2 linked regions of the Homo sapiens genome follow. The protein of the gene in region 1 purifies or fractionates together with the protein of each later gene. This does not show direct contact. Each region holds a gene or a part of one and is shown in the gene's direction. Other genes may lie near its edges.

Region 1 (3,811 bases):
AACCAGGACCTCAATCAAACCCATCTTCCTGTCACTGTCCTTCCAAACTCTCTTGCCTTCTACCCCCACTATAAGGGAACAGGTGTCTTCATTCCTTTAAGGTATATCAATGTGGCAGAGAAGGGAGATGTATACAAACCACCTTGACACCAGGATTTGAATACTGGCTGCACACCTGGGCACATTACCTAACCTCTCTAAGCTCAGGTTCCTTCTCTGCAAAGTGGGGATATGAATACTGTATTAGTCTGTTTTCAAGCTGCTGATAAAGACATACCTGAGACTGCGTAATTTATACAGAAAGAGGTTTAATGGACCCACAGTTCCACGTGGCTGGGAAGGCCTCACAATCATGGCAGAAGGCAAAAGGCACATCTTACATGGTAACAGACAAGAAAGAGGACAGAACCCAGTGAAAGGGGTTTTCCCCATATAAAATCATCAGATCTCGTGAGACTTATTCACTACCATGAGAACAGTGTGGGGGAAACTGCCCCCATGATTCAATTACCTCCCACTGGGTCCCTCCCATAACACGTGGGAATTATGGGAGCCACTATTCAAGATGAGATTTGAGTGGGGACGCAGCCAAACCATATCAAATACCAAGAGCTATTTTATAGGGTTGTTGTAAGAATTAAATGAGGCAACATATGTAAAGTTCTTGCCACAGTGCGTGGTGCGTACGTTGTCAATAAATGGTGATGGTGATGTCATTTTTGTCCCCTCACTCTTGAGTGACTCGGTTCCAGGATCTTTAGGCTTCCTGCTCCATTGAGTTTTTCTCAAAAGTGTTTCTACAGATCCAAGCCCATCCTGTCTTAAATAAACCCCAGACTTCTCACCTTGACCTCACATGCACCCCCAATGTTTCTTCCCATAAACAAACTGTTGCCCCTTTTTTTCCTCCTTAAAACAACACATGTTCTGAAAGAACTATTGACACTGGTCTCTACTTCCTCACTGCCACCCCTGCTTCCTGGCTTTTGCACTGCCCAGCCGCAGCCTCACAGAGACTTCTGGCTACCCATCATCTTCCTGGCCCACCCTGCTGCCTCTGTTCCTGCCAGGGGCACCTCCGAGAGGGGGTTGGCCCTGCGATCCTCAGTTTTCCTCTTTGGGCATGGCTTCTCCTCAGGAATGTGCCCTTCCACCTCATTTTCCCCAGCACACATGCCTCAGTTTCCTCCTGGGACCTGATGGCTCCCAGATCACTATCTTGGGCCCAGACTTTCTGGAGCTGAATCTCCAGTTGCCTCGGAGCCTCCTCAGACTCAGTGTGGCCAGAATGGTGGTCCTGGCTTCCCCTCGGGCCTGCCCTTCTGCCTCCTTCTGCACCCTGGGATGGTCATCAGCTTTTCTCCCACTGCTGCCCTGTATGCAGGGAAGGCCTGCCTGTGGCTGTATCTGTAGTACTTCTTGAATGTGTTTCCTTCTCTCCCTCCCCACAGCTACTTACTGCCTTGGTTCAGGGACCTGGATGTCTCCTCTTCCTTGAGATCCCAGACTGCCCAAGTTAAAAGTGAGTTTAGGCCGAGCTCAGTGGCTCACGCCTGTAATCCCAATACCTTGAGAGGCCGAGGTGGGAGGATCACTTGAGGCCAGGAGTTGGAGACCAGCCTGGGCAACATAGCGAGACCCCATAGGTACAAAAAATAAAAACATTAGCTTGGTATAGTGGTATGCGCCAGTGGTCTCAGCTTCTTGGGAGGCTGAGGTGGGGGAATTGCTTGAGCCTGGGAGGTCGAGGCTGTAGTGAGCTATGATTGGACCACCGCACTCCAGCCTGGGCAACAGAGCAAGACCCTGTCTCAAAAAAAAAAAAAAAAAAATGAGATTACTCTCCCCTGCCTCACATTTCCCTATTGCCCATTGCTGCTTTGTTTTTCTCCCCAGCAGTTGTTACTTCGTAACACACACCATCGTTTATTTATATTGTTTACATATTTTACTTATATTTATAGTATTATTTGTATTGTTTATGGTCTCTCTTCCCTCATCAGAATGTAGGCCCCAAGTGGGCAGGGATGTATGCTCTTCTGTTCACCACTGTATTCCCATTGCCAGAAACACAGTAGGTGCTCAGTAAGTATTTGATGGAGGAGCTTCTGCAGTTCATTCTGCACGTCAGCCATGGCTGGTCCTGCTCTTCAGCCTCCAAGCCCAGCAGCTTCCTGGTGGGCTGCAGTTTTCTCATCGGAAATAGAGAAGAGTAGCAGTGCCGATTCTGCCTCCCTTGCAGGTCGTTTTAGTGCATCTAGTTGGAAAATACAGGCAGGTTTGCAGGGAACACAGTTTTCAAAGTGTAAAGCTCAGTGCAGGTGCTAGGTCATGGTGTTTTTTGTCACACTGGGATCCTGCGGGAGAGGTAAGTTTAGCTGATTGGAGTGGAAGATCCAGCCCATTCTTCGTGGTGCCTGCCGCAGAGCCTGCAAGCCTGCAGAAAGACAGGGAGTAGCCACGTCTTTCTGTAGTTCACACCTGTGTGTCTCCCCACCTGATAATCCCTCAGCACTTCTGTTTGCCTTGCATGTAAAGCCCGACCTTTGCATGGCAGGCACACAGACTGAAACTCTTTCCTCCTCCAGCCTTTCTTGGACTCATCCACAGAATGACAAAGAAGTATTCTGTGAATATTGGTTGAATGAAGGAAGGCACGGCTTTTTAAAAAAGATGAAAAAAAAAAAAGTTATGAAAAGCTTTAAAACTTGCTATTGGCTGGGCGTGGTGGCTCACACCTATAATCCCAGCACTTTGGGAGGCCGAGGCGGGCAGATCACCTGAGGTCAGGAGTTTGAGACCAGCCTGGCCAACATGGCAAAACCCCGTCTCTACTAAAAATACAAAAATTAGCTGGGCGTGGTGGTGGGTGCCTGTAATCCCAGCTACTTGGGAGGCTGAGGAAGGAGAATCACTTGAACCTGGGAGGCGGAGGTTGCAGTGAGCCGAGATCGCGCCATTGCACTCCAGCCCGGACAACAGAGCGAGACTTCATCTCAAAAAAAAAAAAAAAAAAAAAAAAAACCAGAAAAAAAAACTTGCCATTAAACAAATTCCAGTTTTGATTTTTGTTTTGCATTGGTTTTGAATCCATGCATGTTATGGCCACAAAGAAGACTTTCTTGGCTCCGTTGTTTGTCGTGTGTGTGTGTGTGTGTGTGTGTTTGTGTGTGTGTGTAGAACCCAGCAAGCAGCAGCTATACCCCGATGAGGCAATGTCTTCATTTGGCCACTCATGTCATTCCACGTTTCCTGAGTGCCCTCTTGGCTAGGCACTGTGCTAGACACTGGGCTACAAAAATAAGAATGCCTGGTCCCCGTTCTCAAAGTAAGCGTGCTTCCTATAATTAGACCCTGAGCTAAGGCGACAGAACCAGCTCCCTTTCAAGACAAGAGTCGCCTGTCTTGACGGACTTTCAGATGGGCTGGAAGAACAAGGTCTGGCGTGTATGGACTCTGAACTGCTCAAGCTGCTGCCGTCTTGCAGGTCTAGAGCCTACAGGGTAGCGTCATTCTAGTTTCTTTGCTGGGCACTCTGGAATTTGTTCTTTCTCCTGCGAGAGACAGTGGTCCTCAGTTGTGTTCCCTCCCCACCATCCTCACCCTCCCTCCCACGGTGGTTAGTCATTCTGGAGGCTCAAGTTGGCTCACAGAAGGTGCTCTTGAAAACATCCCCCACCCTCCTCGTAACCCCAGACAGTCAGGAAGGGCCGTTGTCGGGTACTAAGAGGTGTTATGGTTTCACATTCATGCTTTCTCTCTGAAGAGAAAACAAAACATGTTGAAATAGGGAGAAATCCCAGCAGCAGCT
Region 2 (3,811 bases), on another chromosome or scaffold:
ACCTGAGCGAGGAGGGATTGAGCAGGGGCCCAAGGGAGTAAGGGACGCCTGGACAGACAGGAAGGATGACAGTGTGCAGTGGGTTGTGGGGTCCTCAGTGGGGTGTGCAGGCCTGCAGTGGGGTGTGGGGCCCGCAGTGGGGTGTGGGGCCCGCAGTGGGGTGTGGGGCCCGCAGTGGGGTGTGGGGCCTGCACTGGGGTGTGTTTTGGGGATCTGAACTGGGATATGGGGGACTCGTGGTGGGGGCACCTGCAGTGGGGTATGCACAGGAGGCCTGTGTATCTGGATCAAAGGGAGCCAGATGTGGGTGAGGTGAGGCCTCAGATGAGGGAGAGGCCAGTGCCGTAGCAAGAGCTCTGAGTCCCCAGTTGCTGAGCGAGGGTTCAGCACAGGAGGGCTTGATCTAGCTGACGTTATCAGGCCCCTTGGGCTGCTACGTGGGCGGCGGGATGCGGGGACCCACGTGAAAGTGGACACTGTTGCCTGTTCAGGAGAGGGACCTGGGGGACAGGAGGGGCGGGGCCCCAAGAGCCACGTGGCCCTCCAGTCCTGCTTCCAGCTCAGATCTCTGAGCCCCACCCCACCTAGGAGAGGGATCCATCTGGGCCCTGGGCTGTGGGCAGCTCTGGCTGAGGCCAGGCCACAGGAAGAGCCCCAGCCCATGTGTGGGCTGACCCCTGATGTGCACTGGGACCTGCCTTCTGGCCTGCAGCCCAGCAGGTGGCACGGCCCCCACCCTGGCCTGGGGGCTGCTGACTGGCTGTCTCTGCCCCAGGGTCTGCCTGCTGGGAGTCCTGGCCCTGGTCATCAGCTGGGGCGCGCTGGGCTTGGAGCTGGCTGTGTCCGTGGTGAGTGGCAGAGGGGGTGAGGTCCCCGGCTGCTGGACCTGGGCACTGGGGGAGGGACGAGGGGAAGCCACACTCCTCTCCCCTCCCATCTTCCCGGGCACTGGGTCCCGAGAGCGGTGGGGACCCACCATGGGCACAGTCCACCTGTAACCCCAGATTCACAGTCCACCCTCCTGAGTTGAAAGCAGACTCCAGGGGACGGGTTCTACCCCCGAGAGCTTCCCTTTAGGCCCAGCTTGGTCAACCCCTCTTGCTTGCCCACGCCCACCTCAGGGCTCCAGCGACTTCTGTGTGGACCCTGACGCCTACGTGACCAAAATGGTGGAGGAGTACTCGGTGCTGAGTGGGGGTGAGTCTGTGTCCACGGCCGTGTCCCAGCGGGTTCCCCAGGGTTGGGCTGAGCCAAAAGAGTGGGGTAGCTGAGGCCGAGACACCCCTGCCCTGTGGGTCCATGGTCTCAGGGAGACAGGTCCCAGGCCAAGATGCTAGTGAGCAAACAGGACCACCTTTCCCAAGTGGGAGGCTCTGCAAAGAATGACAGGAACTATGTGGGGTGGCGGGTGCCCGCGTGGCAGGGGGAGCGGCAGGTGACCCAGGGCTGCTTCGAGTAGATGCCCAGGGGAGGCCAAATGGGTGGCATTAAAGTACAGCCAGAGGTCTGGGTGCAGTGGCTCACACCTGTAATCCTAGCACTTTGGGAGGCCGAGGCGGGTGGATCACCTGAGGTCAGGAGTTCAAGAGCAGTCTGGCCAACATAGCAAAACCCTGTCTCTACTAAAAATACACAAATGAGCTGGGTGTGGTCGTGGGTGCCTGTAATCCCAGCTACTCCGGAGACTGAGGCACGAGAATTGCCTGAACCCAGGAGGTGGAGGTTGCAATGAGCCGAGATCGCACCACTGCATTCCAGCCTGGGCAACAAGAGTGAAACTCCATCTCAAAAAAAAAAAGTAGAGCCAGAAGGACGCTGCATCTCTTCTAAGAGCCCCGAGGCAGGAGGCAGACCCGAGGGGAGAATGGAGGGTGGGAGGCCAGTGGGGCTGAGTCTCTGTGGCAAGCTTCGCTTTATTCCAGGGGGAGGCCATTGGAGGGAGGGAGGCAGGGGAGAGATTTGACCCATGATTGAAGGTCCCTTTCAAAGCTTCCTCAGGCCTCAAGGGTTACAAGAGTGGGTGAGGAGGATACCTCAAGCAGGAGACAGCAGGGGCTTGAATAAATGGAGCAAAAGGTGGACAGGGATGGGCTTTGAGGGCGGAGCTGGCAGGACTTCCCGGTCAGTTGGATGTAGGGAGCGAGAGGGACGGAGCAGGAGTTGGCGTCCCTGGTTTCAGCAGCTCTGTGCTGCGGGACCATAAGCTGTACTGTGGGTGGGGGAGCAGGTCTGGAGGTGGGGGGCAGGGAGCTGGGGCATCGGGAGTTTCGGCCCCCTCGGGAGGTTTGCGATGTGTGTCGGACGGCACAGAGGCAGGTGGACGTGGGAATCTGGAGATCGGGGTGCCGTCAGTGTGTTAAGCTTCTCAGGCCCCCCTTGTGGAATTATTGTGTGTTCCCCAATAGGAAATAGAAGGCCTGTCCCTGTGGGGGTGAGGGTTACTGAATGACCTTGAAGGTGACCATCCTGCCACCCTTTGTCCCTGGAGGCCACAGGATTGGCTTGTGGGCTGGTTTTTTACCTGCCTTTGTTGAAGGAACCACTTCCACCAAAGCCTGAAGAGCCTCCTGGAGGAAAAGTCATCTGCCGCCCACTGACCTTGTCCTCGGGGGCGAGGGTGGAGGGGTGGGCCCGCTCTGCTAGGGGCGGGGAGGGCTGGTGACCGCTCAGTGCTACCCACCACTGTCCTTGGCCCCGGTGCTATCATCCTGGTCCCTCCAGGTCCCTACTGTAGCCGGCGGCCTTTGGGGGGATCTCATCAAGTATGAGCAGCGCCCCCTACACGTGTACATGTACACACGTAAGTGTGAGCTCCAGCCTGCGGGCCAGACAGCCCCTCCCAGAAGGCAGCAAGGCCAGCCACGCTGGCTTCACTGCACAGGCGGCCACAGTGATGCCTGGTGCTCTCCTATGTTGTTAAATACTTTCATCATTTTTTGAACTTTTAAAATGTTTTTTTTTAATGTTCTTTTATAATTGGAAGAACTGAACTTGTAAAGAGTTCGGAAGGTGGAACCCAGGCAAGGGGCAGTGTGTGGGGACTCTGGCTTGATGGGAGCCCAGACCCCACTGCCACACACACAGACATAGGCATGTGTGTAAATGCATGCAGACACACATGCGAAGACATGTACACACAGACATGCACACATATAAACACACAGACACATGCACACCGGCACACGTGCACACGAAACGTGCACAGAGACACATGCACGTGTAAGTAAACATGCAGACACATGCACATGTGTAAACAGGTGCACACAGACACACATGCACACATGTAAACATGCACGCAGATGCCCTGAAGATATGCGTGCAGACACAGGCAGACGTGCACGCAGTCTCACAGGGACAGCTGTTGCAGCTCAGCCTTCCCTGATGTCTCTCCGCAGACATCCTGCAGTACTACCTGGCCTGCTCGCCCCGCGCCGCCAACCCCTTCCAGCAGGTGAGAGCCTGGGAGGCCGGGACTGGGCTTCAGGAGAGTCTGAAGCACATTGCTGTGTGTGGAGGGGCCCAGCAGGCCTGGCGCCTGGCTCCTCAGCCTGCAGGACTGGGGAACTGGGGGAGGGAGCTGGACAAAGGCTGTGTGGATGTCACCAACAGCCCCTGGGGTTACCATGCCGGTGACCTGGTGACCTGGCTGAGAGCCTTTCGGGGGGACCTGCTCAATGCACCCGCATCGCTGGGACTGCTTTTGCTCCTTGGATTGGCCTTGGTGGGGGAAGGAGGAGCCCCAGGGATGCCTCTGTAGGGTAACCGTGTTCAGGCGTCCTGGTGGGGGAGTTTGAAGAGGTCGGCCGCACCA

The links.
Region 2: the proteins of SLC25A37 (region 1) and TTYH3 purify together in Homo sapiens (affinity purification with mass spectrometry; one large-scale study listed by BioGRID and IntAct). This does not show direct contact.

What each region holds. Positions count from the first base shown.
Region 1 is NC_000008.11:23,535,383-23,539,193, forward strand, and holds part of SLC25A37 (mitoferrin-1), read left to right. Parts: intron 1-1,451; exon of another isoform or gene 1,452-1,522; intron 1,523-3,811. UniProt on the Homo sapiens protein: Mitochondrial iron transporter that specifically mediates iron uptake in developing erythroid cells, thereby playing an essential role in heme biosynthesis.
Region 2 is NC_000007.14:2,648,792-2,652,602, forward strand, and holds part of TTYH3 (protein tweety homolog 3), read left to right. Parts: intron 1-775; coding exon 776-848; intron 849-1,121; coding exon 1,122-1,197; intron 1,198-3,395; coding exon 3,396-3,451; intron 3,452-3,811. UniProt on the Homo sapiens protein: Calcium-independent, swelling-dependent volume-regulated anion channel (VRAC-swell) which plays a pivotal role in the process of regulatory volume decrease (RVD) in the brain through the efflux of anions like chloride and organic osmolytes like glutamate.